Linked DNA regions of Homo sapiens: all the other regions are linked to region 4. Evidence: fine-mapped expression QTL. A gene starts in region 4. Each other region holds a variant in brackets. All regions are shown on one strand. Distances are from middle to middle. Region 1 overlaps SEZ6L2 (seizure related 6 homolog like 2). Region 2 has its middle 170 kb from the start of NPIPB11. Region 3 overlaps KIF22 (kinesin family member 22). Region 4 holds the start of MVP (major vault protein).

What was found. PIP is the estimated chance that this variant, and not a neighbour inherited with it, causes the effect.
Region 1: its variant is fine-mapped to the expression of MVP in whole blood (INTERVAL, PIP above 0.99).
Region 2: its variant is fine-mapped to the expression of MVP in whole blood (TOPMed, PIP above 0.99).
Region 3: its variant is fine-mapped to the expression of MVP in whole blood (TOPMed, PIP above 0.99). The same link has a PIP of 0.9 or more in lung.

Annotation. Positions count from the first base shown.
Region 1 is chr16:29,864,345-29,872,444 of GRCh38, reverse strand. It overlaps SEZ6L2 (seizure related 6 homolog like 2), which reads left to right. Exons shown (of 18, transcript NM_001243332.2): 16 at 1-36; 17 at 162-258; 18 at 717-1,286. The coding sequence ends at 746. It also overlaps the pseudogene CDIPTOSP. Among named protein-coding and RNA genes, the nearest start is that of CDIPT, 5.2 kb to the right of the region's middle. The variant G/A (reference allele first, on the strand shown) is at 4,551.
Region 2 is chr16:29,232,606-29,240,705 of GRCh38, reverse strand. No RefSeq gene overlaps it. Among named protein-coding and RNA genes, the nearest start is that of NPIPB11, 170 kb to the left of the region's middle. The variant G/A (reference allele first, on the strand shown) is at 5,002.
Region 3 is chr16:29,791,966-29,800,065 of GRCh38, reverse strand. KIF22 (kinesin family member 22) reads right to left here. Exons shown (of 14, transcript NM_007317.3): 2 at 2,978-3,173; 3 at 1,565-1,692; 4 at 1,319-1,473; 5 at 882-1,091; 6 at 572-802; 7 at 285-438; 8 at 18-153. Among named protein-coding and RNA genes, the nearest start is that of KIF22, 5.3 kb to the right of the region's middle. The variant TGAAG/G (reference allele first, on the strand shown) is at 4,334.
Region 4 is chr16:29,817,213-29,825,312 of GRCh38, reverse strand. It overlaps MVP (major vault protein), which reads right to left and starts at 4,851. Exons shown (of 15, transcript NM_005115.5): 1 at 4,803-4,851. It overlaps PAGR1 (PAXIP1 associated glutamate rich protein 1), which reads right to left. Exons shown (of 3, transcript NM_024516.4): 2 at 8,021-8,100; 3 at 2,824-5,758. The coding sequence ends at 5,559. MVP-DT (MVP divergent transcript) reads left to right here and starts at 4,946. Exons shown (of 4, transcript NR_186424.1): 1 at 4,946-5,129; 2 at 5,712-5,773. RefSeq lists enhancers at 1-45, 106-185, 4,128-4,417, 3,880-4,446, 5,138-5,207.

The DNA.
Region 1 (8,100 bases), 47 kb before region 4:
TGTCCTCGGCAGTGGCGTTTACATCTACTACACCAAGTAAGTAGCCTGCTTGGGGACTGCCGGCCAGGGCAGACGTCTTGCGAGCCTGGCACTGGAGCCTGGGTCAGGGGAGCTCAGGGGCTTACCTGTTGATAAGCTCCTCTGTCCTCTCCCTTTCCCAGGCTTCAGGGAAAGTCCCTTTTCGGCTTCTCGGGCTCCCACTCCTACAGCCCCATCACCGTGGAGTCGGACTTCAGCAACCCGCTGTATGAAGCTGGGGTAAGCACCTTGCCTGCCCCTGAAGAGCCACCACTTGGCTCTCCCAGGACTCCATAACCTTCTCGCAAGGTCTCTGGAATCTCTGTCTTGGGAATTTCAAACTCAGCTGCCCCCAGAGGCCATGTCAATGAGCATAGCAAGCCATGTGTATACAATAGGGAGTGGTGAGGACTGTGGCTAAGTGGAGGACTTGTGCCCCATCTCAAGAATACGGCTCTACCCCATAGTCGAAACTGAGGCACAATTGGCAGATCTTCCAATTATTCAAGACAAGCCAGAAATTCAGATTTTTGTGTCATTTTACGACACCGTAGGATGAACCAAACACATTCACTGGCCCCCCAGCCCCTAGAGGTCAATGTTACTTTAAAACCCAGGATCGTTGCCCCTCCTCCCATTCGGCTGCCTCTTCCACCCCTATCAGACTCCAACAACTGACCTGATCTCTCTGTCTTCAGGATACGCGGGAGTATGAAGTTTCCATCTGAACCCCAAGACTACAGCTGCAGGACCCAGGACGCCCCTCCCCTCCTCATTCGGGCAGAGGGAAATACGGGACCCGGTCTCTGCCTCCTGGCTGCCCTCCTCCCTGGCTGTGTAAATAGTCTCCCTATCCCACGAGGGGGCTTTGATGGCCCTGGAGATCCTACAGTAAATAAACCAGCATCCTGCCGCCCAAAGCCGCCTCTTCTCAGTTGCCAAACGAGGGGCCTGCCCCCCGCCCTACCGGCTTTTGGATTCTGGGAGGGGAACTCTGCCTCCCTGCAAATCTTGCAGCCCCTCCTGCCCAGGGCACCCCTCAAGGACTGCCCCCGATAGCTCTACTGTTCCCTTGGCCACGAAGGTGCCCCCCTCCCAGATGCCCTGGCCCTAGGCCTGACTCCGGCCAGGAGGGTCAGAAGAAGGACAAAGGGGAGAGCTGGGACAAGGCCTTGCCCCCTTCCTGCCATCTCCCCAACCCACAGTCTCTCCACCTTTGCTTCTGAATTCTTGTTTTTGAGCAATAAACAGAAAATCGCCACTTGTAATTGGGCCGGTGGAGTGTGGGGAGGTGGTCACCGAGCACTGGACCACTTCTCTGGAGAGAGGGCTGGGGAAAGGGGAACAATTTGAAAAAAAAAAAAAAAAAGGAAATGCGAAAGTGGGCAGAGGGCAGTGTCCGGGGGCCTGGCCTGAGGTAAAAAAGCCTGGCTTTAGGCTCAGCCTCTGTGAAGGCCTCCCTGCGACCAGCCTCACTCCAGGACGCAGTGACCTCTCCACCAGGCCTTCCTTGACATTGTGGGCCTCTTCCAGATGGGAGAGAACTGACAGGAGCCACCCGTCTTCTCTCGCTGCTGGGCAGGAGGCAAACAGCTTTCAATTTCTTTCTTTTTAGAGACAGGGCCTGGCTCTGCCGGCCAGGCTGGAATGCAGTGGTGCCATCACAGCTCACTGCAACCTCAAACTCCTAGGTTCAAGGGATCCTCCCGCCTCAGCATCCTGAGTAGCTGGGACTACAGGTGCAAGCCATGGTGCCTGCCTAATTTTTAAATTTTTTGTAGAAATGAGATCTTGTTACGCTGCCCGGGCTGGTCTCGAACACCTGGCCTCAAGCAATCCTCCTTCCTCAACTTCCCAAAGTTCTGGGATTACAGGCGTGAGCCACCAAGCCTGGCTTTTCAATTTGTCTTATGACCAGTTTGCCTAAAATTCACCCCCTTTGGAGAATTTTTGTATCCATTCAAGTACACCATTTCTTCCCCCCCCCCCAATCTTTTTAGTATTTTAGGCGTATCTGCTGTGACCCATCTACCAATTTGAACTTGTTTTATATCCTTGGGGGTGTCCTTTTCCACTTTATCTTTTTTTTTTTTTTTTTTCACTCTTGTCACTCAGGCTGCAGTACAATGGCGTGATCTTGGCTCACTGCAACCTCCACCTCCTGGGTTCAAGCCATTCTCCTGCCTCAGCCTTTCGAGTAGCTAGGATTACAGGCACCCATGCCTGGTTAATTTTTGTATTTTTAGTAGAGACCGGGTTTTGCCATGTTGGCCAGGCTGGTCTCGAACTCCTGACCTCAGGTGATCTGCCTGCCTGGGCCTCCCAAAGTGCTGGGATTACAGGTGTGAGCCACCTTGCCTGGCCTAATTAAAATTTTATATTTAAGCCGGGCATGGTGGCTCACGCCTGTAATCCCAGCACTTTGGGAGGCCGAGGCGGGCGGATTACGAGGTCAGGAGATCGAGACCATCCTGGCTAACATGGTGAAATCCCTTCTCTACTAAAAATACAAAAAATTAGCTGGGCGTAGTGGCGGGCGCCTGTAATCCCAGCTACTTGGGAGGCTGAGGCAGGAGAATGGCGTGAACCCAGGAGGCGGAGCTGGCAGTGAGCCGAGATTGCGCCACTGCACTCCAGCCTGGGCGACAGAGCCAGACTCCGTCCCAAATAAAATAAAATTTTATATTTAAATGCAATTAAACATTTTTAGGATACTTGAAAGGATGCTGAAATATTCAGAAAGGGGTGGACTTTTAGGAGAATGTGAGGCAAACTGATCTCAATAATAGCAAGCACTTTGTATGCATTATGTTGTTTTTTTGTCTTTTTTTTTTTTTTTTTTTTTTGCGACTGAGTCTTACTCTGTCACCCAGGCTGGAGTGTAGTGGTGCAATCTCAGCTCATTGCAACCTCTGCCTACTGGGTTCAAGTGATTCTCCTGCCTCAGCCTCCCCAGTAACTGGGATTACAGGAGCCTGCCACCACACCCGGTTAATTTTTTTATTTTATTAGAGACGGGGTTTCACTATGTTGGCTAGGCTGGTCTCGAACTCCTGACCTCAAGTGATCCACCCGCCTCAGCCTCCCAAGTGCTGGGATTACAGGCATGAGTCACCACGCCCGGCCTATGTTTTTTTCTTTAGAGACGGTGTCTCTGTAGTGTAGGCTGGAGTACAGTGGCACCATCATAGTTCACTGCAGCCTCAACCTCCTGGGCTCAAGTGATCCTCCAGCCTTAGCCTCCTGAGCAGCTGGGACTACAGATGTGCTCCACCACACCTGGCTAACTTGTTTACCTTTTTAGGGGTGGGGGTTCACTCTGTTACCCAAACTGGTCTTGAACTCCTGTCCTCAAGCGATCCTCCCGCCATACTGTCCGGTGTGTCTCTGGGATTACAGGCATGAGCCACCATGCCTGACTCAATTATGTCTTTTAACTCTCTAAAGGACCCTACGGGACAGGGATCATTTATTAATCCATTTTTTCAGATAAGGAAACTAAGGCTCAGAGATGAGAATTGACTTCCACAGGAGGCTCCAATAAATGGCCAAACTTTGTGCAGTTTGCATTTAGCAATGCAAATGCTAAATGCTAAAATGAATTTAGCCTACTGCAAAGCCTACTGCACTGCTTTCTGGCTAGTAATGAGTGTGATATGTTCTCACAGGCATGAAGCCCAAAGCTCAGAGGGGCAAGGCCATAGCTCAGTGTCCCCATCCCCAATGGTGGTGGCAGAGGTGGCTCCTCAGAAGCAAGAGGAGTCCTGCCAGATGCCACAGACCTAGACCTTAAGGTGCTGGCGTGTGGCCAGGAGGCTGGATTTGGACCCATGAGCTCATCTGTGTCAACAGGCCGGGTGTGGTGGTTCACACCAGTAATCCCAGCACTTTGGGAAGCCGAGGCAGGAGGATCATTTGAGGCCAGGAGTTCAAGACTAGTCTGGGCAACACAGTGAGACACCGTCTCCACACACACAAAAAAATTTTGAGACGGAGTCTCGTTCTGTCGCCCAGGCTGGAGTGCAGTGGTGCGATCTCAGCTCACTGCAACCTCCGCCTCCCAGGTTCAAGTGATTCTCCTGCCACAGCCTCCCTCCCGAGTAGCTCGGACTACAGGCACGTGCCACCATGCCCGGCTAATTTTTTGTATTTTTAGTACAGACAGGGTTTCACCGTGTTGGCCAGGATGGTCTTGATATCCTCAGCTCATGATCTGTGCTGGGATTACAGGCGTAAGCCACCGTGCCTGGCCACAAAAAAATTTTTTTAAAGACTAAACACTCCAATCGTATGCCCACATCCAGCACCCACATCTAGAAAAAAAAATAAAAGCCCCCCCGTCCTGCTTCTCTACCCCAGAGAAACCACACATGAGCAATGCACACCCTGTCTCTTTATTAAAGCACTTTCATTCCTGGTGGTATCCTTGCTGGCTGAGGCTGGAGGGTCCTGTGATGAATCCAGAACACTTTGAAGGCTTCGGGATGATGCTGCTCATGACCAGGAGGTCCCCACAAACGGAAGTGGTTAAC[G/A]AGTGGCAAAAGAGTAGTTTTGAGGCATGTTCTAGGGACAAAAAGGGGGAGGCATGAGAAGCCAAGAGCATCAAAGAGGGGTGGGCTCATCTTCCAAACTGACTGTTAGGAAGAGCTCCATAAAAGAGACAGAGCCTTTTCACTCTTTAGACCCAAGGCTCATGTCTTTTTTATTTTTCTCGAGACAGGTCTCCCTCTGTCAGCCAGGCTAGAGTGCAGTGGTGTAATCATATCTTCCTGCAGCCTCAACCTGGGCTCCAATGATCCTCCCACCTCAGCCTCCCGAGTAGCTGGGACCACAGCTGTGCACCACCATACCCGGCTAATTTTTTAAACCTCTTGATAGCAGGAACTCTGTTTCGTTCACTGCAACACCCCAGCCCCTCGAGCAGTGCTGGCACATAGTAAGTGCTTAATTTTTATTTATTTAATTTTTTGGAGACAGAGTCTCGATCTGTGGCCCAGGCTGGAGTGCAGTGGTGCAATCTCAGCTCACTGCAACCTCCACCTCCCGGGTTCAATCAAGTCTCTGCCTCAGCTTCTCAAGTAGCTGGGATTACAGGTGCGTGACACAATGCCTGGCTTTTTTTTTTTTTTTTTTTTTTGAGAAAGAGTCTTGCTCTGCAGCCCAGGCTGGAGTGCAGTGGTGTGATCTCGGCTCACTGCAACCTCCAACTCCTGGGTTCAAGCGATTCTCCTGCCTCAGCCTCCTGAGTAGCTGGGATTAGAGGTGCATACCACCAACCCAGCTAATTTTTGTATTTTTAGTAGAGACAGGGTTTCCCCATGTTGGCCAGGCTGGTCTCAAACTCCTGACCTCAGGTGATCTGCCCGCCTGGGCCTCCCAAAGTGCTGAGATTACAGGTGTGAGCCACCGCGCCTGACCTAACGTTTGTATTTTTAGTTAAGACAAGGTTTCACTATGTTGGCCAGGCTGATCTTGAACTCCTGACCTCATGATCCACCCGCCTTGGCCTCCCAAAGTGCTGGGATTACAGGTATGAGCCACCGCACCCAGCTCCTCCTACTATTTCTTTCTTTCTTTTCTTTTTTTTAAATTTTTCTTTTTGAGACAGGGTCTTGCACTGTCACTCAGGCTGGAATGCGGTGGCATGAACATGGTTCACTGCAGCCTCAACCTCCTAGGCTCAAGTGATCCTCTGGCCTCCGCCTCTCAAGTAGCTGAGACCACAGGTTCGTGCCACCACACCTGGCTAATTTTTTTAACTTTTTATAGAGATGGGGTCTCTCTATGTTGCCCAGGCTATTCTTGAACTCCTGGGCTCAAGCGATCCTCCCACCTCCCAAGTAACTGGGATCACAGGCACATGCCATCATGCCTGGGGTATCACCATGTTGCCCAGGCTGGTCTCAAACTCCTGGACGCAAGCGATCCTCCTGCTTCAGCTTCCCAAAGTGCTGGGATTACAGGCATAAGCGACCACACCCAGCCAGGAAAGTGTGTAAGGCTCTAAACAAGGCACATAAAGTCTCTTGAGTCCCCTCTTACCTTGCCTGTAGACTCCAGCTGCTAAACTGCTTCTCCCTGCCCTAAATACACACAGATGCTCACACTGGCTCTGCGAAGACTGCTCTTTGCCTTTGTTCATGCAACCCCAACTGCTTGAAAGACTCCTACTAACCTCTTTTTTTTTTAACCTGGAAAATTATTTCTTTTTTTTTTTGAGATGGTCTCACTGTCGCCCAGGCTGGAGTGCAGTGGTATGATCTCAGCTCACTGCAACCTCTGTCACCATGTTGACCAGGCTGGTCTCAAACTCCTGCCCTGAAGTGATCAGCCCACCTCAGCCTCCCAAAAATGCTGGGATTACAGGTGTGAGCCACTGCACCTGGTGGAAAATTATTTCTTTAGGTGCTACCTCCTTCAAGAAGCTCCAAAGCCTGTAATCCCAACACTATGGGAGGCCAAGGAGGGCGGATCATGAGGTCAGGAGATCAAGACCATCCTGGCTAACACGGTGAAACCCCGTCTCTACTAAAAATACAAAAAAATTAGTCGGGTGTGGTGGCGGGTGCCTGTAGTCCCAGCTACTTGGGAGGCTGAGGCAGGAGAATGGCGTGAACCCAGGAGGTGGAGCTTGCAGTGAGCTGAGATCACACCACTGCACTCCAGCCTGGGCAACAGAGCAAGACTCCGTCTCAAAAAAAAAAAGAAGAAGCTCCATGGCTCCTGTCCTTCCTGTCCAATTGAAGCTGGGATAAGAGTACTATCCCACTGTGTCCATTTCTATTATGGAAACTTATCCAGACTGTATTATAATTGGCCATTTCCTTGTCTGTCCCCACACTGAACTGTGAACTCTTCAAGGGCTGAGACTGTACCATTCATTTCAGTGTCCCAAGCTCCTAAGACAGGGACCAACATATAGTGCAAACTCAAAAGGTTTGGTTAATATCGAATAGCCTTGGCAGCCATGGACCCTGCATGTACCTTTTCACCAGGAGTTGGCAGGAGGTATGCCTTGCTGCAGGTACGGTTTCTGTCCGAGCAGGAGATGGTGGAAGAGAGGGGAGAGGGCTGAGAATTCAGAATTTGAGGATCAGGGCAGAATAGAATGGAAGTGCACGGTTCAAAAATTCCCCCACCCTGCTGGGATATTGTGAAACCCTCACTCTCTCCCCTCCAGGTTCCTCACCTCTCTCCCAGGACAAAGAGCATCTCCCTTGAAGCCTCACTCACCAGGTGTCTGTGCCTCAGGTCTTGGTGAAGAATGCTGGAAGTAGAGGACCTAGTCAGAGAAAGGACTATCCCCGTGGCCAGAAGAGATGCGGCCAGGGCAGACGGGGCTAAGGGGATTCTCGGCCAGCAGTGAGGAGTGGGTACTGGGTTAGCGGGTGAGAGGGGCATTTCACAGGTCCTAGGGCTGGCTGTGAGATGGATGAGATGGGCACAGACTCCTGGAGAGTTCAGCTAGGGGTGGGAGGGGTCAGGGACTGTAACCAGGCATAGTGGGGGCAGCGGTTCTCTAGACACGGTGGTCCTGAGGCAGGGGGTTACCGCGTTTGGATATCTGAGTCGCTTGGTCTTGTGACTGCTTTTTTTTGATGGGCACAGGGTTCAAGTGGCAGCAAGCAGTGCACAAAGCCTCCTCCATGAGTTCTGCACTGATCTGGGACAGGTATTCCTCAGAACGAGATAACGAAGCCTGGGAAAGGAAAAGCCGGAGGGGTTCAGCCTGGGAGCTCCCACATGGGAGTGCTGGCTGTGGGAGTTCCCAGGCTGGGGCCTGTGGGTCCAAGGAGCTTGCTCCTGAAGGACTGGGCCTTGAGATTTAGCTAGAAAGCTCTGGACCTGGGGGAGGGGGGTTTGGTGGGGGTTTAGAGTCAGGGCCTAGTGCTGAGAGCTATGAGTCGGGGCTTCAGGACTCAGGGTTGAGGCTAGAGTCTCAGGGCCCGTGGCTCAGACCTGGCACGGGGTGCCTCTGCCTGGGAGGCTTTCACTTCATTACATTCCCACCTCTAGGGTTCCCTGCAGTGCTCACCGGACCTCCTCTCAAGGAGGGTGCAGCTTGAGATGGCCAGCTGCTCT
Region 2 (8,100 bases), 580 kb after region 4:
TTAGCACAGTGGGGGCTGGTGGGGGGGTGGAGGAGGAGGTCCAGCTTTACCAGGCATTAAAACACACTAAAAAGCTTCTTGAGAGAAAAAAGTGTGGGACCGACACACAACAAAACAGAACGGTGGAAAAGAACACCCAGAAATAGACCTGAGGACCTCTGAATAATTTGTAGATGGTCAAAGTGACGTTCACGTCTCTAGGACAAAGATGATCTTTTTAACAAACGGTGCTGGGACAACTGGTTAGCCGTTTAGTAAAAGATGGAATTAGATTCATATCTCATACTATACATAAAAAATAAACTCCAAATGGATTAGAGATCTATATGTAAAAAATTAAACCATACAAATACTAGAAGGAAATGTCAGAAAAGCTTTTTAAACTTCAGCATCCAAATGCAACACAAGAGAAGATGGGTACATTTGATGGTATAAAAACAGAACCACTTTTCAACATCCAAATGCAACACTAGAGAAGATGGATGCATTTGACGATATAAAAACAGAACAACTTTTCCATGGTTAAAAAACACCGCAAAGAAATCCAAAGGACAAATGACAAATTAGGAGAAATATTTATAACATACATCAAATATAGGGGAAATAGTTCTAATACAGAAAGCATTATTAAAAACTGAGGGAAGAAATGACCAAAGACCCAATAGGAAAATGAACAAAAGACATGAAGAGATAATTTACCAAAAATGTTTATAAATGGGCCTTAAACACATGAACAAATGGCTCAATATCACTCAAAACAGAAATGTCAATCAGAGCTACATTGCAGTCTCATTTTTCACCTCTCAGATTGCAACAATGTAGCAGCGTCACTGAGAACATGTTCCCATGAGAAGGCTCTGGAGAAGTGGGCCTTTCCTTACTTTGCTGGTGGGAATACAAATTGGTAAAACCATCTTGGAGGAAGAGTTTACTTTTGCATCAGTAATCTCATGACTAGAATTTACTCTGAAGATACTCTTACAATAGTATGAAGATGCATTAAAAAAAACAGATGCACAGGTTTATTCATTGCAACATTGCATGTAATTGCAAAATATTAGAAACAATTGGAATGCCCACAGACAGGAGAGAGGTTGAATGAACTGTGGTACGCCCAAACAGTGGAGTACTATGCAGCTGTAAAAAAGAATAAGGAAGTCCTCTATGAACTCATATGGAGTCATTTCCACGATATGTTATTAAGTGAAAAAAAACGTAAAAGACTATCTCTAACATGCCATCTTCTGGGTAAAAGAAAGGGGAAATAAAACAATGCTTATTTTTTGTAAAAAGAAAGACAGGGGCCTGGTGCGGTGGCTCACACCTGTAATCCCAGCACTTTGGGAGGCCGAGGTGGGAGGATCACGAGGTCAGGAGATGGAGACCATCCTGGCTAACACAGTGAAACCCCGTCTCTACTAAAAATACACAAAAATTAGCTGGGTGTGGTGGCGGGTACCTGTAGTCCCAGCTACTCGGGAGGCTGAGACAGGAGAATGGCATGAACCCGGGAGGCTGAGCTTGCAGTGAGTCAAGGTCGCGCCACTGCACTCCAGCCTGGGCAACAGAGCAAGACTCCATCTCAAAAAAAAAAAAGAAAAGAAAAGAAACACCGGAAGAACAACCCAGAGACTGATGAGACGGTGTATGTCACAGGAGGTGAGGGACAGTGTTGGGGAGATGGACTAGGAAGCGACATTTCTCCGAATAGATGTGTGTGTGTAGGGTTTTGTTTTGTGGAACCAGGTTAAGTTTACATACTTGAAAGGAAAAAAAGAGGGGGCAGGTGACTCTAAATGGATTGCAGATAGAAACAAAAGAAGCTCGCTGTATTTCAGGCAAAGAATATGTGGGGTGAACAGATGTGTTTTCCACAGTGGGGTGGGTTAGCAATGCTGAAACTATTTTCTGTTTATTCTAGGACTGAGCAAATAAGCAAATACCCTGAGAATGGTAGAGGGCAGACCTGGCCCTGCTGGGGAAGGAGTCGCAGGTATTCCAGGTTGGAACTGGAGGCATCGTGGGAGCTCGTGGCTCATGTATGTTAGAGAGTGTGTGTGTGTGTGTGTGTGTGTGTGTGTGTGTGTGTGCATTTACTATGGAGAGATTATAGATGCAGATATATGTGTGTGTCTTTTCTTGTCCTGTCTTGTCTTATCTGTACGTGCTTCCTTCCCTCCTCCCTTCTTCCCTCCCTCCCTCCATCTCTTCTTCCTTCTTCTCTCTCCCTCCCACTTCTCCTCCCTCCCTCCCTGCCTCCCTTTCTCTCCCTCCCTCTCTCCTTCCCTCCTTCCTTCCCTCCTTCCTTCTTCCCTCTCTCTCTCTCCCTCCCTCCCACCTCTCCTCCCTCCCTTTCTCTCCCTCCCTCCCTCCTTTCCTCCCCTTACACTCCCTCACTGAAGCCACTGAAACACCCTGGACACCGAGGCACTCCAGTAGTAATGAGCACACTAGCACCCACGTCTTGGTTTCTGGATACCTTTTGCCATGAACAGAAGGCTTCATGGGAAAAGTTCCAGATTGTGGCACGTGACAGGGAAAGCGCCAAATTGCAGCACGTGACAGGGAAAGCGCAGATGAGCTTGGGATATCTCTTCCTGCTGCAAAGGAAATAGGTACTTAAAGGATGATGGGGACACAGGAATTGGCTTGAAGGGGCTCCCACTGACCAAACCCGGGACAATGTGGGCATCAAACACATAATGATGGCAATGGATTATAACCCATTAAATCTTTAAAAAGCCACGAGTCCACACTAATATAAATGAATACACAGATAAATGGGGAGAAAGGAAATCTCTTCAGTCATCATGAAATTTAACAAAGTACAGGACATTTATATATTCCCAAGGCAGCTCACAAAATACTTATTAAGTCTGGCAGGCTAAATCATGGCCGCCAAAGACACATCCACCCCCGACACCCTCGAGCCTGTCACCGCGTCTTCATATGGAAAGGGGACTTTGCAGATGGGATCGAGATGTGGAGGTGATGTGGCTTATCCAGGGCGCCCCAGCTGCTATCAGGTGCATCCTTATAAGAGGGCCAGAGGGAGATTTCAGACAGGAGAGGAGGTACTGTAACCATTAAGGTGGAGACGGGAGCGATGCGGCCACAAGCCGAGGAAGCCAGCAGCCCCAGAAGCTGGAAGGGCCGGGGAGACTCTCCCAGGTGCAGGGCGGCCCCGTCGACACCTTGGTTATGTCTAGGGGAGGCTGATTTTGAATTTCTGGCCTCAGAATGGAGAGAATAAGTTTTAAGCTCCCGGTTTGTGGTTCGTTGTTGGAGCAGCCACAGGCACCCAGAGCCGCCAGTCCCTTTACAGGGGGGACAGCTGGCGGCTCCACTGCACCCAGGTGGTCAGAGTTACCCTCTCAGCCAGGGAACGAGGAGGCGCAGCCTCACCTCCCCGCCGTTCCCGCGGCCTCACCTCCCCGCCGTTCCCGCGGCCTCGCCTCCCCGCCGTTCCCGCGGCCTCGCCTCCCCGCCGTTCCCGCGGCCTCTCCTCCCTTCCGTTCCCGCGGCCTCACCTCCCTTCCGTTCCCACAGAGATACCAAGTGGGATCTCTCACCAGGAAGCGCCCGCCAGACCCAGGCAGAGGGGCAACATACAAACTGGTCTGTTCCCTCCAAAGCCATCGAGGTTTAAAAAGAAAGAAAGACGCAGGGTTCCAGGGAACCAGAGTCGAGTCGTGACAAACCAGCACCACTCTGGCTGCTGGGCTGGACCAGAAACAAGTGTAGGGTTTTGTTTGTTTGTTTGTTTTTTGTCATAAAGAACACGATTGTGGTAATCGGCAGCCTTTGAACAAGGTCCGTGGATCTGGTAACAGGATTGCGATCATGGAGGTTTTCCCATTTCCGAAATTGAGCTGCGGTTATGAAAGGGCCTCTGCTTGCTCTTAGGAAGTACACCTGAGGTATCTGCGGTGAAAATAAATCCATGCAACGAATGGAAGTCCCAAGGGAGGCGCCCAGACCCACAGCCTCCTGCACTCAGTTCGGGTCTCCAGTCTGTCCAGCCAGTGGGCCCTGAGCCCAGGCCAAGACCCAGGATGGGCCCCAGGAGAGGGGCCGGGACCACGCAAGTGAATTCCTGGCCCTTCTGCCTCTGGCGCTGCTGTTGAAGAAAAACAAGTCCTATCCCGGCTGGACTCCTGGGTGCCGTCTCCGGGCACAGCTCAGCTTTTCCTAAAGCCTCTGCCCAGCATGGAGTGAGAGATCATGGAAAACACGGGGGGTCAGCACAGCTCCCCCCTCCCTCACCAGGAACGGCGTCTCTCCCTGGGGGCTGCAGGCCTGGGCACCCCTGTGCCACCCGGGGTGGGGGCTCAGGGTCCTTCTTCAGGCCTGTCATGGGCTGGGCCCCCCCCCCGCCCCGAAACCCTCCACTGCTCCCCAGTTCTCCACACCCTCTCGGAACATTTCCCAGGCTGGCCTCATTGCCGACTTTCTTTGGTTTTCAGAATTTCTTTCCAGATCTGTGTTAAAGCCATCATTTTTTCTGGCCTGTGCGAGTCCTCACACACATCACTCACCCCCCATGACTGCTCAGAAAACCCAGCTTCCTCCCCATAGAAAACGTCTGAAATGATCGCGCATCTCTGACACCTTGTCACTACACCAGGGACAGTGAGGCACGGGGTTTGGGAGCCGGTTCCGCATCCGTGCCTTGTACTGTGCTGCTGTTACTGCCGGACGAGCCCCAGGCCCTCTCTTTGCTTGTGTGCGTTTTTATAGAGAATTCTAGCATCACCCCAAGACTGTTCATTCCACTTTCAGGATTGCCACGCTGGAGCTCAGCCCCTTAAGCTGAATGTTCAGGAAAAAACTATGAGGTTGATGTTAGGCTCTTAATGATGTTTGAATACAGGATTAGAATCCTTAAAAATGCCTTCTCAAAACACAGCCCAAATGGGGAACTCTGCCTAGAACGGGGTTTCTGGGTACGGCCCTGCAAAGTGCTCCTGTACCCTTTAGGAGCCTCCTCGAAGCCCTGCT[G/A]TGCCTCAGGAGGCTCCTAAAAAACCCTTCGAGGAAGCCGGGACATAATCAGGTGGTTCTACGAAGCCGATGTTCTGCCGGGAAACATCTCCGTTGCGAATTGAGGTCATGTGTTCGGATATTATTTTCCTCATTCTCCATTTACTTTCCTAAAATAATCAGCTCCTGAGGATTCCTGTGGCAGAGGGCTTCCAGTAACATCTGCAGTGAAATATCGGGGTACAGGGAATGCAAGCTGCTGGTAGGGGCACCTCACAGAAGGAGGCCTGGAACACAATGGCGATGGACGCAGGCTCTGCTCCCTCGGCGCTGCCCCTTAACGCGAGCACTGATTTTTACATTATAAATCCTGCAGCTGGCGCACACTTGGGTTTCTATGGAAGGTCCCCAGCACTGTGCTCTCCGACTTCCTAGATGCCTGGAGGCCGGTCGCCAGCACCCAAACTGGAACTTTCAGAGCAATCACTCCCTTTTCCACGTCTGAAGGATCCAGGTCTCAAGAGTGACAGTGAAAAGCTGCAGACTTCTCGGCAGCAAATCCAGTGAACACCCCACTCCAGGACCCTTTAGATTCCAGAAGGCCAAGCAAAGTCATTTGAGACCACAGCGGAGACAGCTGTGACCATCCTGGAATGCCCTCCCACCCTGGCTGTGTGGGCGCCTTGTGCCTGATTTCCTCTTAACAGGGTCCTCCTGCGTTCTGGCCAAGGCGGCTCACAACCATTTTGAAAAGTATCTCTTCCTCCTGTCGGAGAAAATCCTTTAGAAGCTTGAAGTCAGACATCTTTTCTCTTCTCTACCTGCCTCCCTCTGCATGGTTTTCCACGAAGAGGGACGAGGAGGGCCTAGCGGTGCTGGCCAAGTGGCCTGAAAGAAGTGGGAAACAGAACGGCAGGGGCTTCCCAGAATCTCTCCTGGTCCACGGGTGTCACGATCCCACTCTGCCCAGTTCCCAGGATGCCCAGAAAAACAGAGACAAGGCCTGGGGCACCCTAGCAGCTCTATGTGGCTTATGGGGCATCTCCAGCTGCTCTATGAGGTTACGGGGCACCTACGGCTGCTCTATGGGGTTACGGGGCGCCTCCCGCTGCTCTATGGGGTTACGGGGCACCTCCTGCTGCTCTATGGGGTTATGGGGCAGCTCCGGCTGCTCTATGGGGTTATGAGACACCTCTGGCCACTCTGTGGGGTTCATGGGGCACCTCCAGCTGCTCTCTGGGGCTTATGAGGGACTTCTTTAAGATTCTATTTCAAAACCCACACTTGCTATGGATTGAGTTGTGTCCGAGTCCTACCCCCGACCTGTGTGAGTGTCGCTTGGTTGGAAATGGGCTCTTTGCAGATGTAATTAGTCAAGATGAGGTCGTGCTGGAGTAGGGTGGGCCCTAAATCCAATGACCATTGTCTTTATAAAGCGAGAGACACAGAGATACACACACACACAGGGAGAGACACAGAGCAGAGGCCATGTGAGGATGAGGTGGGACTGGAGTGGCATGGCCACAAGCCAAGGACACCTGGAGCCACCAGGAGCTGGAAGAGGCAGGAAGGATCCCCGGGAGACCCCCGAGGCAGCATGGCCCTGAGACACCTGGATTTTGGTCTCCAGGCTGAGAGGGAGTGAGTTCCACGGCTTTGGCCCCCAGCTCCTGCCTCCACCCCCGCCCCGTCCCCGCCCCCACCGTCATTTGTAGTGTTTTGATGCCGCAGCTCCGGGAGCTCACACGGGGCCCTGCTTCCTGGGCTGCTGTGGGATCAGGAGAGGAGGCAGGCGCGGCCCTCAGGTGACAACCCCAGGCACCTGTGTGCGGACTCGCTGACGGTGGTGGGGGAGGGCCCTGGGCACAGAGCGGGCGGATGAGTAACCCACCTGAGCCCTGAGGACCCCATTCTTCCTAGGCCCGGGTCTTGGCCGTGTCCAAGGCTGCAGCCCTGTGGGTTGGGGGCTCCTCCCTCCCTGGGGGGTTCCTCACTCTCCGAGCACCTGGGCAACTAGAGGCTGCTCCGGACTCACCCTTCACCGCCTCTGCCCCTCCCACTCCGAGCTTCAGACCTGCTCTTCCCAGCCCGTCTGCCCTTCCCACTCCGAGCTTCAGACCTGCCCTTCCCGGCCCCTCTGCCCTTCCTGCTCTGAGCTTCTTCTTTTCAGCCTGACTCACGTCCCCTGCCCCTGCTCCGATTTGACCACTCTCCCTACGCTTGTCACTGAGCACTGTACCTGGATTCGGTGGGGGCTGCCTGCACTGCACAGAGACTGTCACGGCAAAGGACAGGGCGTCGGCCGTGGCACCCGGCTCAGGGCCCTTCCCTCACCTCCAGCCCTCAAGGCCACCACGAGGCCCTCATCTCACCTGGGCTGCCGGGACCTGGCCTGGCCTCCCCTCTGGGGCTCTTGACCCCCGGCCCCTGCCGCTGCCCCTCATCACCTCCTCACCCCCAGTGCTGACCCAGAGCAGACTCAAGAGATGCAGGCAGAGGCTGAGGATGCTGCACAGGGTGAGGAGTGAGGCGCCCCCACCACCAACCGGCCACCTGGAAATGCAGACACAACGTTTCCTAAGGTCTCTTCCAGAAACTCAAAGTCCATTCTACACCCCGGAGCCTCAGGTTCTGAGATGCCTTGGACCAGATGTGCTTCCTGCGGTGCCAGAGCCAGCATCTGCCCCGCCCTGGGTCTGCCTGGGAGAATGATGATGGATAAGAGACAGGTGCCACAGACACCTCAGGGGCGCACCTGAGAGGTGCTGGCTGTGCTCCTGGGGATAGGTGGGTGCAGCTTATCCACGGGGGCACCTGGAATGGCAATGAGAGGACTTTAGGACCCACAGGCGGGCAGGACAGCCAGAGCCTCACTCTAAGCACCCCCGGTCCTGAGCCCGAGCCAGAGCAGCCTCCTGCAGCTTTGGGCAAGCTCCTGGGCTGTGTTCAGCCACTTCTGTACGTGGAAAATGCAAGGTTGGTGTCTGCCTCACAGTGCAGCCACCACATGACTGGTGTGGGGAACAAGGTGTGTGATCCTTGTTATAACTGGTTAATAGGAATGACAGCCAACACGGATTCGCAGGTGCTGTGTCCATGCCTCACACCACAGATGCTGAA
Region 3 (8,100 bases), 25 kb after region 4:
AAGGCCCCACTGCTCACCTGAGTTTCTGGGAGGCAGAGGCTGGAGCTGCCATGGGCTCAGGGCTCCCGATCTCCTCTTCCTCAGGGCCTCGGGCTCTCTTTGCCTCTGGTGGACCAAGCAATTCTTTCTGAGACAGCTTAACAGGTCCCAAGGCTAGATGATTGGAGGATGGGGTGGAGAGAGGGATTGGGGGTGGTCAGCCTCTGTGCTGATGCTTGGTGGTTTCAACAAACTCCCTAATTTCCAGACCCAGCGTTTCCACTCCTGCCTCCCCCAGTTCTCACCATGAGGCTGCAGGCTCTCATTGGTAAAAGGCCGATTGATCACCTCCTTGGACCTGGCAGCAAAGTTGAGTGCGGAGACTGTGTCTAGGTAGAAGCGTCTCTCAGGGGCAATGTTGGCAATAAGGATACTGTGGGCTGAGCCACCCAGAGAGTCCTGAGGGTGAGACCAGGCAGTGGGTGGGTCAGAAGCCCAGCCTTCCTATGCCTCAACTGCTATTCCCCACCCCACAGCAGGCCTGAGAACCTCCTTCTGCAGCCCCTTCTTCCCTGAGACAGGTGGGCCTGACCTGCAATAGGCGAGTGAGCTTGCTGTCCCGATAAGGTACACGAGGGAGGCCCTGATTCAGCGCATCTACCACTTTGCCCAGGACAAACAGGGAGGTGTTGATGGCTCCACTCTCTTTTAGCCGAAGGCCCTTGTTGCCTGTGCGCCGGTTGTCCTCTGACCCAGCCAAGTCAATCAGGTAGAGTTTTCCCTCTCGCTGGCGAAATGGGGCCAAACGTTCCCGCTGGTCCACCTGGGGGTAAGAACAAAGGTCTCGTGCTTAGCTCAGGCTCCTGGGCTTCCCAGGTCCTCGCCCCTGTCTGCGGCCTCACCTTGACCAGGAGCACAGCATGACTGCGGGAGGAGCGCTGGTTGAGCCGGGTGGCTCCTACAGTCCGATTTCGACTGGCTGGCAGGAAGTGCCGCTCAAAATCAGCAAAGCTACTGATGGGCTTCTGGGAGAGACCCGGAATCAGGATATTCCCCCGGCAGTCTTCTCGGATTACCAGGTCTCCCGAAGCAGGGTCCAGGAGGTCTAATACCTGTGTAAGCAGTGAAGGGGAAGGGCAATTCTCCATAGAGAGGCTGTTTCTTCCTGGGGATCAGTTTCCTTTCTCTGTTCTATTCTCGGAGTTGTACCATCTGCTACCCCAGTCTCTGTCTTTCTAGGTCTCACCTTACCTCCCTGCTACAGCAGAGCTTCATGTTCTAGAACCAGGTCTTACTTTGACCCTTTGTTGCTCCTCTCCCAACCAGCACGGGGCCTCACCTTCTCCTGGTAGATCTCTAGGTAAGACATGGTGACAGAAAGGGCCCATGGCCGGCCCTCGGCACCCTCCTCCCTTGTGAGCTGCAGGAGGTCCATGAGAGCCCGCGGGATCACCCCAGGTTGCTCTGGGCTGCCCAGCATTGTGTGCGTCTTCCCTGGGAAGAGAGTGGAGAAAACTGTGAGGTTTTCCTCTCCGTTTCCCCAGCCCTTTCTGACCCATAGCTGTTTCTTTTCTGGCTCCCTCACCAGCTCCTGTGGGTCCATAGGCAAGCACACTGGCATTCTGCCCTTCCAGCAAGTGCCTTAGGATGGGCTGCACTGAACCTGCATAGATGTCCTGCTGAGTACTCCTCTCCCCATAGAAGGCATCAAACCTGCAGGAAGAAAGAAAGAAATTAGCGTGTGTGTGTGTGTGTGTGTGTGTGTGTGTGTGTAAGGGGTGGAGTGGGGTGGGGGTGGGTAAGGGATTCTACTCTCATCTGGACCTTGGATTTAAGAGAACGTCTCTATCCCCTTTCTTGTACAAAGACCTTAAAAAGCATCCACCTAACACCTACTCCATCCTCATCTCTCTATTGGTGTTAGGAATACAGAGATAGATCTGATATCCCTGCTCTTGGAGTTTTTCAGTCTGGTAGGATAGATATCCACACTTTGCTGTGATTTAGGAAACGAAGATAAGAACACACTCTCAAAGGAGTAACTGATTCTGCTCAAGGAAGGAAGATTTTGACCAAAGAAAGAAATTCTGAGAATCAAGAATAGCAAAAAAGCAAGGCTTCCCAGTCTTTTTCAAATGGCTACATGTGTAGAACATTGTATTTTACACCATAATGGGGAAAATAGAGGATGCTGCTTATGACTGAACTAGACTCTACATACCAATCACCTATCCACTGCGTTCTGGTGGAGAAGTGCAGCTTAGGCCACAGCAGGGAGTTTAATATATATTGAGGGAATGAGGCTGGAAAGAAACTGAAGCCCAAATTGTTAACGGCCTAGTATGGGAGCTAGCAAACTTCTGTAAAAAGGCAGATTGTACATATTTTAGGCTTTGTGGGCCATGTGTTCCTTTTACAACTACTCAACTCTGCCACTGTAGTCAGAAAGCAGCTATAGACAATATGTAAATAAACGATAAAATTTTATTTACTGAAAATCTTACTCCTGATCAGATTTGACCTGCAGGCCATGGTTTGCCAGCCCCCGCCTAGAAAAACAGGCCAAGGAGTTTGAACTTTAAATCCCCAGTAGGATTATAAAGTAGCTGCCCTTCTGAGTTCTGTCCCCAAATCTGGGTGGTCTTCTCTGACACTACCCAGCTGCAGCTTGGGTAGGCTGGCTGGCAGGTCTGTGTTCCGCCAACCCTCCTGATATGTCCCCCAGCCTCTACTTGGGGCTCACCTGCTCACCCTCATTGCTCCTCCCTCTCTGTGCACAGTAATGTATGTTTGATTCAACCTCTCATCTCTCCCTACAGTATCCCAGAGAGGGCCCATCATGGGGGCACCTGTCAACATTTCCTAAGTGAACAGTGAAGGCTCAGGGAACAAAGCGGTGCTAAGGAGGGAGCAAGGATCCTGGGGAGGCAGGGGAACGTGGGCAGGCCTAGGAGAGGGAGGTGATGGCATGAGGGAAGAGGAGTGGCCTGAACCTTACTGGTATTTGAGAGTCTCCTGGTGGTTCCTCCAGTTAGCAATCTCTAGAGAGCAGCTGTCCATGCCCCGCACACAGGGGGGATCACTTGCTCCCGCTGTTCCATCCACAAATGGCCGCAGTCGCACAGCCACCCTTACGCGAGCTGGAGGTGGACGACGAGTAGCTCCAATCTTGCTTAGCCGACAGCGACCAGCTCCTGGAGGAGAGAAGATCACTTTTAGACATGAAGTATGGTGGTAGCAGAAGAAGCAGGGACCAACTTTGCTGGGCGGGCTGGGGGCCACAGCTCATGTTGGAGAAGCTCATTCTGCCCTGGTCATGTTGTGGACACCCCTAAGCTTGGCCTCAGTGCCTTCCCTGCTCTACAAGCAAGTGCAGCAGGTGTATAGCAGGCTTCTCAGACTGTAATGTATACACAAATAACCTGGAGGATCTTGTGAAAATGTGGATTTGGTCTCCGTCTCCCTGGGGTGATGCCCGAGATTTTGCATTTCTAACAAGCTCCCAGGTGATGCTGGGCACTTAAAAAAAAAAAAGAGAGAGAGAGGGATGGAGTCTCACTAGGTTACCCAGGCTTGTCTTCAACTCCTGGGCTCCAGCGATCCTCCTACCTCAGCCTCCCAAAGTGCTGGAATTATAGGCAGGAGCCACCATGCCTGGCCCAGGACATGTTTTGAATTGCCAAGGGTGAAGTAGACCAGCACCTCACAGGGTTGTTCTAAGGATTAAAAGGGTTGACATCTGACCGAAACCTAAACCAGAGAGCGAACTGCCAGAATTTTCTGTGTGTGTGTGTGTGTGTGTTTTTTTTTTTTTTTTTGAGACAGTCTTGCTCTGTCACCCAGGCTGGAGTGCAGTGGCATGATCTCAGCTCACTGCAACCTCCACCTCCCAGGTTCAAGCGATCCTCCCACCTCAGCCTCTCGAGTAGCTGGGATTACAGGTCCCCAACACCACTCCTGGCTAGTTTTTGTATCTTCAGTAGAAACAGGGTTTCACCATGTTGGCCAGGCTGGTCTCAAATTCCTGACCTCAAGTGATCTGCCTGCCTTGGCCTCCCAAAGTGCTAGGATTATAGGTGTGAGCCACCCTGCCCAGCCTGTACCTCCATTTCTTAACTGGGGTTTCTAATATGTATTGAGACGTATGTATACTCACAGACCCACCCACCCCTGCAAACTGTTAATGATGATCTTCTCTTGATGGGGAATTATGTGGGTTCTGCAAAAACCACCGACATGCAATTCTTCTCTCATGTAAACTTAACCCTGAATTTGCTTCAGATGATTAAGTTTTTTTTGTTTTGTTTTGTTTTAGAATTGGCAACTGAATTATTTTTATCATCAGAAAACACAA[TGAAG/G]ATAAAACTTAAAAAAAGAAAAGCCCTCTATTTTTGTGGGGGTTAAATGAGCTGAAAATATCTAAGGAGAGTATTACTCTATTTTACGTTGGAGGATAACATACTGTAGCTCATAGTGGAATTCAAACCTAGATCTCTTCCCCTCTAAAAATCTGCTTTTAATAGGATGCTGTATTGCTTCCTTATTATGTACCAACTGGGAAAGCTCCTGGCAGCTCTTTCCCTTCCTTGCTGGTGGTAGCAGCTGGTTGCTAGGAGCCATAGGCCTCGCAGAAGGCAAAAGGCTGGCTGGTATACGTAGCCAACACAGAAACAGCAAGACGAAAAGGCAGACAGATGACCCCTACAAAGAATCTTACACCTAAGTAAGGCATGCCCATAAGCAGACGGGCTGTTTCAAAAACTGAACCTCCATTCCATCATCTGATAAATGGGGCTACTAATACCATTTCTCACGTTATGGTAGCAAAGCGCTTGGACATCTAGTTCTCATTTGTTCCTCATGGCAATCCTGAAAGTCAGGAGCAAGCAGGTAAAAACCTGCAGATGCATGTGTGCAGATAGAAAACTGAGGTGCACTGACTTGTCAAAAATATGTGCAGGACCTTCCTCTGCCTGCTTTCACAGGATGTTTTGGGAGAACAGAAAGATGGCAGATGTAGAAGCACTTAAGGAAGCGCAGTGATCAATCTAAGGGGAAGGGGAAGTCAGTAATGAGGTAGAGTGTAGACTCTGGTCAGACAGAAGTGGACTTCAATTCCAGCTCTGACATTTATTAGCTTGTGACCTTGGACCTTGGTTTCCTTGTCTGTAAAATAAGGTTGGGGGTGGGCCTTGGGCTTTTTGAGAATTTGGCCGGGCGCAGTGGTTCATGCCTGTAATCCCAGCGCTTTGGGAGGCCAAGGTGGGCAGATCACCTGAGGTCAGGAGTTCGAGACCAGCGTGGTGGTGAAACCCTGCCTCTACTAAAAATACAAAAATTAGTCAGGTATGGTGGTGGACGCCTGTAATCCCAGCTACTTGGGAGGCTGAGGCACAAGAATTGCTTGAATGCGGGAAGTGGAGGTTGCAGTGAGCAGAGATTGCGCCACTGCACTCCAGCCTGGGTGACAGAGCAAGACTGTGTCTCAGAAAAAAAAAAGATAATTGAAATAAGTGCCAGATAAAGTGGCAGCACAGTGACTAGCACATAGTAGGTAGGTTCATCATTCAAGGTAAAATGGCCTGGGTTGAAATCCCAGCTCTGCCATTTACAGCTAGCTAAGTAACCTAGGGAAATTATTTTCCATCCCAGTGCCTCAATTTCCTTACCTGCAAAATGGGAATAAAAATACCTCTTTGTTAGGTTGTTAGGAGAGTAATTAAGGTGATTCATGTAAAAGTGCTTAGAACATTATCTGGTATTTGGTGAAAGGCCAGTAAGTGCTTTTTAATGTCCGTCTCCCATTTTCCAGATGAGGAAACCTCAGTATAGAGGGGTTAGCTGACTGACCCAGGGTCAACAGCTAGTGACTGACAGCTTCAAATGAAGATCTAACTCCAAAGTGCTTTATATGAACCCTCCTCAGCCTCCTTAGCCCCTTCATCTTTGCATCTCATAAGAATGTGAGGATTCAAAGTAATAATGTACATACAATGTTTAGCACAGTGCCTGGCAGCAACTGCTCAGTCCTTAGCTGTTATTATTACACCCTTTCTCTTGCTACCCACTCCTCCATCCCTGCAACTTGCTTCTGCCCTCACTATTCAGCAGGGTCACCCATGACTTCCCTAGTGCTAGATCCAGTAGGCATACTCAGCCTCAATCCTGTTGGACCTCCCAGAAGTATGCGACACTCTTGGGAAACACACTTTTCCCTTCATTTCCATGCCCCCCACCTTCCTGGTTGTCTTACCTAGTTTTCTGTTCACTCCTCATCCTAGGATCCGTCTATCCTTTCTCTAGACCAGCATTTCTCAACTTCAGCACTACTGACATTTCGGGCTGGCTAATTCCGTTGTGGGGCTGTCCTGTGCATTTAGACTGTTAGCATATGCTTACTAGATGCCAGTAGCATTCTCCACCCTCACCCTCAAGTTGTAACAACTAAAAATCTCTCCAGACATCTCCAAATGTCCTGTGAGGGACAAAGTTGCCCCGAGCTGAGACCACTCAGATTCATTTCATAGGCAGGTCACCCGCCCTCTTGGCTTCAGTAACATCTTACAGCTGATAAGTCCTATTGCACGTTCTGCACAAGAGCTCTCAACTGCAGCCCACGTTCTGAACGGCTGCCCTGACGGCTCCTTTTTTTTGAGACAGAATCTCACTGTCGCCAGGCTGGAGTGCAGTGGCGCTCTTGGCTCACTGCAATCTCCGCCTCCCGGTTCAAGCGATTCTCCTGCCTCAGCCTCCCGAATAGCTGGGACTACAGGTGCACGCCACCACGCCCAGCTAATTTTTGATTAATTTTAGAGACAGGGTTTCACCATGTTGGCCAAGATGGTCTCGATCTCTTGACCTCGTGATCCACCCACCTTGGTCTCCCAAAATGCTGGGATTACAGGCGTGAGCCCAGCCGACGGCTCCTCTTAAACTCCACCTGTCCTAAACTGAACCCTCCTTCCCCATCTCTCTGCAGCCTCCTCCTTTGATCTCTGATGTAAATGAATGGCACCAACCCCAAAAGTGGGAGTCTTTAACTCCAACGTCTCTTACCTCCCACATCAGTTCATCATTAACATCTGTCAAGTCTATCTCTTTAAATCTCTCTTGAACAAGTCCACTTCTCTCCACTCCCACTGCACTACCTCTGCCCAAGGTCATGGTCTTTACAGCCTTCCTTGCTGGTGGTAGCAAGGTGTCTCCCTGCCCTCTAGTCATTCCCTCTGTTTCCTTCCTTGCAGTGTAAGTTACCAGTCATGATGAATTTCCTTCACTTCCTACAAAACTCCAAGTTCTCTTGCACCTTTGGATTTTTGTCCACGTTAATCTCTCTCCCTAGAATATCTGCATTGCTCCCCACCCCACCCTGGAGTGACTAAGGTAAACACATTTTAACTCCTCTTAAAAAACAAAACCAAAAACCCTTTCCTGGTAGACACTAAGGCTTTATCAGGTGCAACCACAGCTCATGTTAGCCCCTCCATAAGCATTTGTCACACCCCACTATTGCGTGTTTGTCACTTTCTCCACCTGACTGCCAACTGTGAGAACAAGTTTTATCCTGCTCACCTTTCTAACCCCAACACCTGGCGCAGAGTAGGCCCTCAAGAAGTATTTGCTGAAAAAAATTAAGATTTAGTGAATAAACTACTAATCACTGGCTTGTTCATTTCCATCATGAAAATGGCTCACGGCCATTCCTGCCCCAGGGCTCACAGTCCAGGGTAGGAGGGAAGAGGGGAGGGCCACATGTAAACAATTATTTACTGCACAAGAGTCTAGCCCTTTCATGATAAAAGCAACCTTGAGCTTGGACCAGGCTAGCAATTATTAATTTTCCCTTCTTTCACAATTCCTAAATTTCATTCACTCTTCTCCCTTTTATTGATGAGGAAATTGAGCTAAGAGAGCATCTTACATCATAAATAAGAAAACACTTGCTGTTCTTGTCTTCTTAGTCAAGGCCTGGCAAACTCCTATCCAACCTTTGAAACCCATCTCAAGTATCATTCACTCCCTTAATGAAGTCCTCCCAGAATACTCAAGGGCTTACTTCAGATTCCACACCCTCAGTTTATACACATCTCTCATTGTGTTTCGTATTACATCTACGTATGT
Region 4 (8,100 bases):
GCTTGGCCCCTGCTCCCCAGATCCACTCATCCACCCAACTTCCTTCAGTCTCTGCTTCTGAGACCTGCCCTAGTCGGCTCTCAGTGTAGAGGCCCAGTCTTGCCTGATCACACCTCCCTCAGGTGTCATGAGGCTCCTGCAAGAACCACAGCCAGCTTTCACCCCAAATCCCACCAGGGTCTCTCCCACCATGAGGGTAAATAAGCAGGAACTAAATAGCCTGTCCAAAGCAGAAACCAGGTTCATTGTCTAGTTAAAAGAGGGGCTCTTGCCTGAGAGAGGTGGCTCACACCTGTAATCCCAACACTTTGGGAGGCCGAAGGTGGGAGGATGGATTGAGGCCAGGAGTTCAAGACCAGCTTGGGCAACATAGCAAGGCCCCATCTCTTTAAAGAAAGAAAAAAAAAAAAAAGAGGGAGACCGGATCAGACTCTTGGCTCAAAAGTAAACTTCTGCTACAGCAAAACTTAATAAATAAACGAGTCATGAGTCACTACTTCCCAGAGATCTTCAGGGTCAACTGTGAGTAGCTGATATACTGAATCTCTTTTTTGTTTTTTTTGGAGACTGTAGCCCAGGCTGGAGTGAAGTGGCACAATCTCGGCTCACTGCAACGTCCACCTACCTCCCAGGTTCAAGCAATTCTCGTGCCTCAGCCTCCCGAGTAGCTGGAATTACAGGCACATGCCACCAAGCCTGGCTAATTTTTTGTATTTTAGTAGAGATGGGGTTTCACCCCAGGGTGGTCTCAAACTCCTGAGCTCAGGCAATCTGCCTGCCTCAGCCTCCCAAAGTGCTAGGATTACAGGCGTGAACCACCACACCTGGCCCCTAGTGAGTCTTAAATGGCAATTGACCAAGTGACCACACTGCCTACGGGGTCTGCAGTGAGTAGAGTGGTACCACCTGGAGGCTTGATAGCAACACAGCCTGGGGCCCCACCCCAGAGCCACTGAATCTACTGGCATTTTAACTCGACCCTCAATGACTTGCATGCACATTACAGTCTGAGCAGCTCTGGTCTAAAGCAGACTCTCGGCTCGGGCTGCACACTGGTCATCTGGAAATCTGTTTTTTTTTTTTTTTTTTTTTTTTTTTTTTGAGATGGAGTTTCGTGCTTGTTGCCCAGACTGGAGTGTAGCCATCTCGGCTCACTGCAACCTCTGCCTCCCGAGTTCAAGCAATTCTCCTGCTTCAGCCTCCCAAGTAGCTGGGATTACAGATGTCCGCCACCACACCCAGATAATTTTGTTTTTAGTGGACAGGGTTTCGCCATGTTGGTCAGGCTGGAAGTGATCCACCCACCTCGGCCTCCCAAAGGGCTAGGATAACAGGTGTGATCTGCCGCGCCAGGCCTTCTGGAGACCTTTTTTTAAAGCCACCCATCTCCGGTGATTCTATTTAATTGGTCTGGGTGAGGTTCACCCGTTGCTATTGTAAAAAGTTCTCCCTCATTTTTTTTTTTTTTTTCTGAGACGAGTCTCGCTCTGTCACCCAGGCTGGAGTGCAGTGGCACGATCTCGGATCACTGCAGCTCCGCCTCCCGGGTTCATGCCATTCTCCTGCCTCAGCTGGGATTACAGGCACCCACCACCACGCCTAGCTAATTTTTTTTGTATTTTTAGTAGAGATGGGGTTTCACTGTGTTAGCCAGGATGGTCTTGATCTCCTAACCTCGTGATCCGCCTGCCTTGGCCTCCCAAAGTGCTGGGATTACAGGCGTGAGCCACCGCGCCTGGCCTCTGACTCTTAATATATATCCAGGATTGAGAGCCAGTGGGAAAATGTCACTCCAGCAGGTTTTATCACTGCCAGCATGCTCCTGGGCCACTTACTAGCCTCTGAGCCTTCCTCTCCAGTGAAGTGAGAATAAAAGTGACTGTTGACTAGGCTTGGTGGCTCCCACCTGTAATCCCAGCACTTTGGGAGACCAAGATGGGAGGATCACTTGAGGCCAGGAGTTCAAGACCAGCCTGGGCAACATAGGGAGACCCTGTCTCTATAAAAACCATAAAAAATATTAGCTAGGTGTGGTGGTGCACACCTGTGGTCCCTGCTACTTTGGAGGCTGAGGTGGGAGGATCGCCTGTGCCTGGGAGGTCAAGGCTGCAGTGAGCCGTAAATGGAGCACACGAGTGCGCTCTAGCCTGGGCAAGAGTGAGGCCATCTCAAAAAAAAAAAAAAAAAAAAGAAAAGAAAAGAAAAGGAAAAAAAAATGACTGCTCTTCAAGTCAAAGGTATTAGAGACTGGAGGGTCTCTGGTGCACAGTAGGAACTGGGAGGAGGATAAAGATCAGTTTCAGGCCGGGCGCAGTGGCTGTAATCCCAGCACTTTGGGAGGCCAAGGCAGGCGGATTGCCTGAGCTCAGGAGTTCGAGACCAGCCTGGCCAACATGGTGAAACTTCGTCTCTACTAAAAATACAAAAATTAGCCGTACATGGTGGCAGGCAACTGTAGTCTCAGCTACTCGGGAGGCTGAGGCAGGAGAATTGCTTGAACCAGGGATGCAGAGGTTGCAGTGAGTCGAGATTGCGCCATTGTACTCTGGCCTGGGGGACAGAGCGAGACTCTGTCTCAAAAACAAAAACACAGCTCCGATTGCAGGCTGTGAAGGGCAGGGAATTGCACTCATTCTCCTCCAGCCCCTTCCCTTACCCAGGTCCAGGCAGCCTCCTTTGTCCCCAACCCCAGGGCTCTTGCTCCAGGCAGTCCTGAGGTTGGACGTAAGGTCGGTGATGCGGCCCTGCCCCCAGACCTTCCCACAGCTTCAGGTTCAGGAAAAGGCACATGAAGTTTGGTATAAACAAGGACACAACTTCACAGAGTTTCTCACTGATTTAAGTTAAATATTCTAGTCTTTAGAGAATGGGTCACATGACTCAGGAATTGCCAACAGCCTGTTTTCACCCAGCGGCTTCCTGGTTTACCCCCTTTAGGAGATGATTAATGGAAATTGAGAATGTGTCTCATAAATTACTTTTTTTTTTTTTAAAGCAGCACAGTTTTAGGAACTTTTCGAGACAGAACAGCTCAGCCAGCCTAGACTTCCACTTGTCCTCCCTCCTCCCACTCCTGCCAATTAACACCAGTCACCAGAGGCAAGAACCGCCTAGATCAGAAGCGACCCCAGGAACCAGGCTTCAGCACCCCTGATCTTCATCAATATTTTCTCAACTTGCCTAATCATAGGACTGAGCTATAATTCTTTAAAAAAAAAAAAAAAACAAAACCCCAACCACACACACACAAACAGAGACAGGGTCTCGCTATGTTGCTCAGGCTGGTCTGGAACTCCTGGCCTCAAGCCATCCTCCCATTCGGGCCTCCCAAAGTACTGGGATTACAGGCCTGAGCCACCGCATCCAGCCCTAGGCTGGAATTCTTAACCCCACTCCTGCTGCTTTTTGCAGGCCTCACTTCTGACTCACTGGGTCTAAGTTTCCGGGAGAGAGCCTCTGGACCCTGTGTTCTAGGCAAACGCCCCTAAGTAACAGCTCCCACTTCAGATGAGCTTAATCTGTGCCAGGTAGTGTTAAGTGCCCTCAATTAACTCATGTTATCCTCACAAGAACCTGCAAGTTAAGAAATTTGCCCAAGAGCACACAGTTATCAAAGGACGGAGCCGGAAGTCCAACCTGGCTATAACTGTAGAGACCACAAACTAGGAGGCAGTGGCTTCTCAGGCAGAAACACAAAGATTCTAAGCCGAGAACAAGAACTAGAGGACCTGGGTGGGGCTGTGTACTGCCCAGATGGTGCTAATGGCAGTTCAAAGGTGAGTGTTTCCTGTAAGTTGGGCCAGCGCCCAGCCTCTGCTCCCCCAGAACCTGGGAGGGCAGCACCCAAGATAACCTGAGCACCCCGTTACCTTGGAGCCCTGAGGCTGTCTCTGGGCCACCCACTCAAGGTGGCCCCCCTACCTGCTCAAGGCTACATACAGAGGGCTGTCCTGCCCAAACAGCCACACCCGAGGGCCGACCCAGTGCTCTGTGTGCCAAGGGAGTTTCTGGCAGAGCCACCTGATACCCCACGTGACAGCTGGCCTCTCCCCCATCACCCAGGGGCTACCCAGGCAGAGAGCTGAGAACACAGGGGCCATCAGCCTCGCTATCACCTCCACCCCCAAGTGCTTGGCTCCCCAAGGGACAGCTCTAAAATCCCCAGAATCTCAGGCTGGTGGGTCCAGCTGAGCATCCTAGTTTTCACTTTCTCCTCCCAAAAAGGAAAGAACCTTGGTCACTAAATTCTACGCCTTCTGGAAATCACTCTGCTAATGACTTCCTGAATGATCGACTGAGACCAACAGCTGGCCCAGCCCTGCATGGAGGAGTAAGAAACCCTCATCTGTCAGAGTTAAGGGGCCTGAATGGGTACAGGTCACATTCTTGGAGCTCAAGGTGACAGGCCAGAGCCCAGGTCCCCAGGACAGTGCAGGTGAGTAGAGCAAGCACCGATCTAGGGCTAAGATGGGGTCTGAATGACCCTGTAAGGTTCCCCACCTGATTTCCCAGGTGGGACCCTGAAGTCAGAGAGAGGCCTGAGAGTTGCAGGGGGGTGGGGGACCGGTGTTGGTGTTAATCTGCCTTTACTTCAAAACCCAGAAGACTCCCAACTATTGGAAAGTGAAACCTCCAAAAGCAAAGCCACCACCCATCCTCCTTCCCCACTCTGATTCAGACATGTTTTCCCTGCCCCAGCAGAAGCAAGGCCCTTCAAAGCAAGACAGGACTAAAGAGAGCCTCAAGGGATACAAAGATCTGCCCCTGATTTGGGGTTTGGGGGGCTAGTACAATGTACTCACATCTAGAAGTGCAGGTAGCTGCAACAAACGCCTCAGATGGGGAACTCTCACCCTGCCTTGGGGATCACTTCCCGGCAGGGCAAGGCAGGCCAAGCCCAGGGGTGGGGCTTGGGAGTTAAAGGGCCCGTGTGCAGCTGGTTCTCATTTTATCCTCCGGGCTGCTTCTGCTGCAGCTGAAGGCACACTGCTCCCTGAGTGCTCATGGGTTTCTACCTTGGAGCCAGCTGGCTGCACTGGAGTGGGACTGGGAGGAGTTGGAGGGCCCGAGATGGGACAGGTGCTAACTGAGGGCACCTCTACCCATCTGGCTTTCATTTTCCAATCTGGGTGAGTACAATTCTGCCTCTCCCTTCAAGTGGGGCCTAACTGTTGAGCTACAGCTACAGCCCCTCCTTTTAAGAGATGATAGCTCTGCATCTTTTATTTCAGACTCAGAAAATTCAGTCCAGGTCTCTGAATAGGTGTTCAATAGAAAACACACACTCACACACTCTCTCTATATAGATGTTCAATAGAAAACACACACACTCTCTCTATAGGTGTTCAATAGAAAACACACACACACACTCTACAGGTGTTCAATAGAAAAAACACACACACACACTCACACTCTCTCTTCCTCTTTCCCGCAACGTGCTGTTTGGGAGCTTGAGGTTTCTCTCTTCTTCCCAAGTTTCTCAATGTCTGGGCTGGGGAAGGAGGGCCCAGGCTCCAGCAGGTACGGACACTGCACCCTAGAGGCAGGAGCAGTGGGAATCAGTATTTCCGCTGCCGAGGGAAGAGACTACTCCCGGAGGATCGGAGTGGGGGGCTGGCGGGGCTGGGGTCCTCCGAGTCCAGGCTGAAGAGGTCCCTCCCGGTACGAAGGATCTGCTCCTCCAGCTTCTTGTGTCTCTTCATGTCCGACAGCACCTTGTCCAGGCGGGCCTCCCGTTTCTGGCTCCGGGCTGAGCTTCCTGGAGAAGAGGAAGGTAAGATACATGGAAGGGATGGAGGTGGTGTACACCATACCTGCCTGGACCTCACTCATCACTTGGGGAGCTGGTTAAACATGCAGGTCCCCAGGCCTCTGTCTTGGAGGACCTGAGGTTCAGGGTTGGACCTCAGAGAGGGTGAGAAGCAAAGATCTTGATTGACAGGAAGGCACAGGTAATGTGAAGAACAGGGAGGAACATACTGGGCAGGGGAATGGCAAGGGTAGAGGCCCCAGGACAAGAACAGAGTTCTGTTCAAAGAAGAGTGCAGGCCGGGCATGGTGGTTCACGCTTGTAATGCCAGCACTTTGGGAGGCTGAGGTGGGCAACTCACGAGGTCAGGAGTTTGAGACCAGCCTGGCCAACACAAAAAATTAGCTGGGCGTGGTGGTGGGCGCCTGTAATCCCAGCTACTTGGGAGGCTGAGGCAGAAGAATCGCTTGAACCCGGGAGGTGGAGGTTGCAATGAGCCAAGATCGCACTACTGCACTCCAGCCTCGGTGACACAGCTACACTCCGTCTCCCCTACTCGCCAAAAACAAAAACAAAAAAAAGAGTGCAGAGAACTGGAGGTGGCGGGAAAAGCGCTTGGATTCTCCTTTGACATGCTCTTCCCTGGCAAGATGGAATCCCTTGGAAAATTTTAAGTGGAAAAGTGACACGATTTATGGCTGAGTGCAGCAGCTCACGCCTGTAATTCCAGCACTTTGGGAAGCTGAGGCAGGCACTTTGGGAAGCTTTAGGTCAGGAGTTCAAGACCAGCCTCGCCAACATGGCGAAACCCCCTCTCTACTAGAAAATACAAAAATTAGCTAGGCGTGGTGACGTGTCCTTGTAATCCCAGCTACTCAGGAGACTGAGGTAGGAGAATCGCTTCAACCCAGGAGGTGGAGATTGCAGTGAGCCAAGATCATGCCACTGCACTCCAGCCTGAGCAAGAGAAAGACTTCGTCTCAAAGAAAAAAAAAGTGATATGATTTATGTTTTAAAAGGTTCATCTGAATTGCAGAAGCTGGAAGCAGAGAGCCCAGTTAGGAGCTACTACAACTATCCAGGCAAGAAAGACAGTGGCTTGGATGGGGATGTGGTATTGAAAGTGGAGACTAGCAGAGGTACTTGGAAATGTACATCTTATAGCTACCAAGACTTGCTGCTGGTGTGAATGTTCAGGTAAAAGAGAGAGAAATCAAGAATGGCTCTAGGCTGGGTGCAGTGACTCATGCCTGTAATCTCAGCACTTTGAGAACCGAGGCGGATGGATCACTTGAGCTCAAGAGTTCGAGACCAACCAGTCTGGGCAACACAGCAAGACTCTGTCTCTCCACCCCTCAAAAAAAAGAAAAAAGGAAAGGCATGACTCTGAGGGTAAATTCTAGGAAGGCATGTGGGGTGGGAAATGGGGCCAGCGGTGTGATTAAAGAATGTACATGGTAGTAGAGGGATGCAGATCTAGATAATATTGAAAGGCCAGGACTTGGACTTCTGGGAATGGGAAACATGATAGAATTATCTGTAATTTTCCAGAATCAATGACTAGTTGTTTTTTTAAAAAAAGAATTATCTGTAATTGTGTTTTTTGAGACGGAGTCTCACTCTCTCGCCCAGGCTGGAGTGCAGTGGTGTGATCTCAGGTCACTGCAACCTCCACCTCCCAGGCTCAAGCGATTCTCCTGCCTCAGCCTCCTGAGTAGCTGGGACTACAGGTGCCCGCCACTATGCCCGGCTAATTTTTTGTATTATAATTGTCTCTTAAAGGAAGACAAGGGGCCAGGCGCATTGGCTCATGCCTGCAATCCTAGCACTTTGGGAGGCTGAGGTGGGCGGATCACAAGGTCAGGAATTCAAGACCAGCCTGGCCAACATGGTGAAAGCCTGTCTCTACTAAAAATACAAAAATTGGCCCAGAGTGGTGGCATGCGTCTGTAATCCCAGCTACTTGGGAGGCTGAGGCAGGAGAATTGCTTGAACCCAGGAGGCGGAGGTTGCAGTGAGTTGAGATCGTGCCATTGCACTCCAGCCTGGGGGACAAGGGCAAGACTCCATCTCAAAAAAAAAAAAAAAAAAAAAAGGAAGACAAGGTAGTAATCTAAGTCATAAAGATGGTGCTACTGGGTGAATACTCTCTCCTGCAGCTGTAAGTTGTGTGGGAGCTGAGGCAGCAAGCAAAGGCCTCTAGGGGAGCCGATCTTGGGTAACTGAGCCGAGGCCCTTCACCTCCCCCAACTGTTTCCTCTTCGTTTGTACCTGGGGTGCGTCTCCGGTCAATCAGGGAGTCCTTTGGTGTCACTGGCTCATCATCAAAATCAAATTCCGTGGGCATGTGT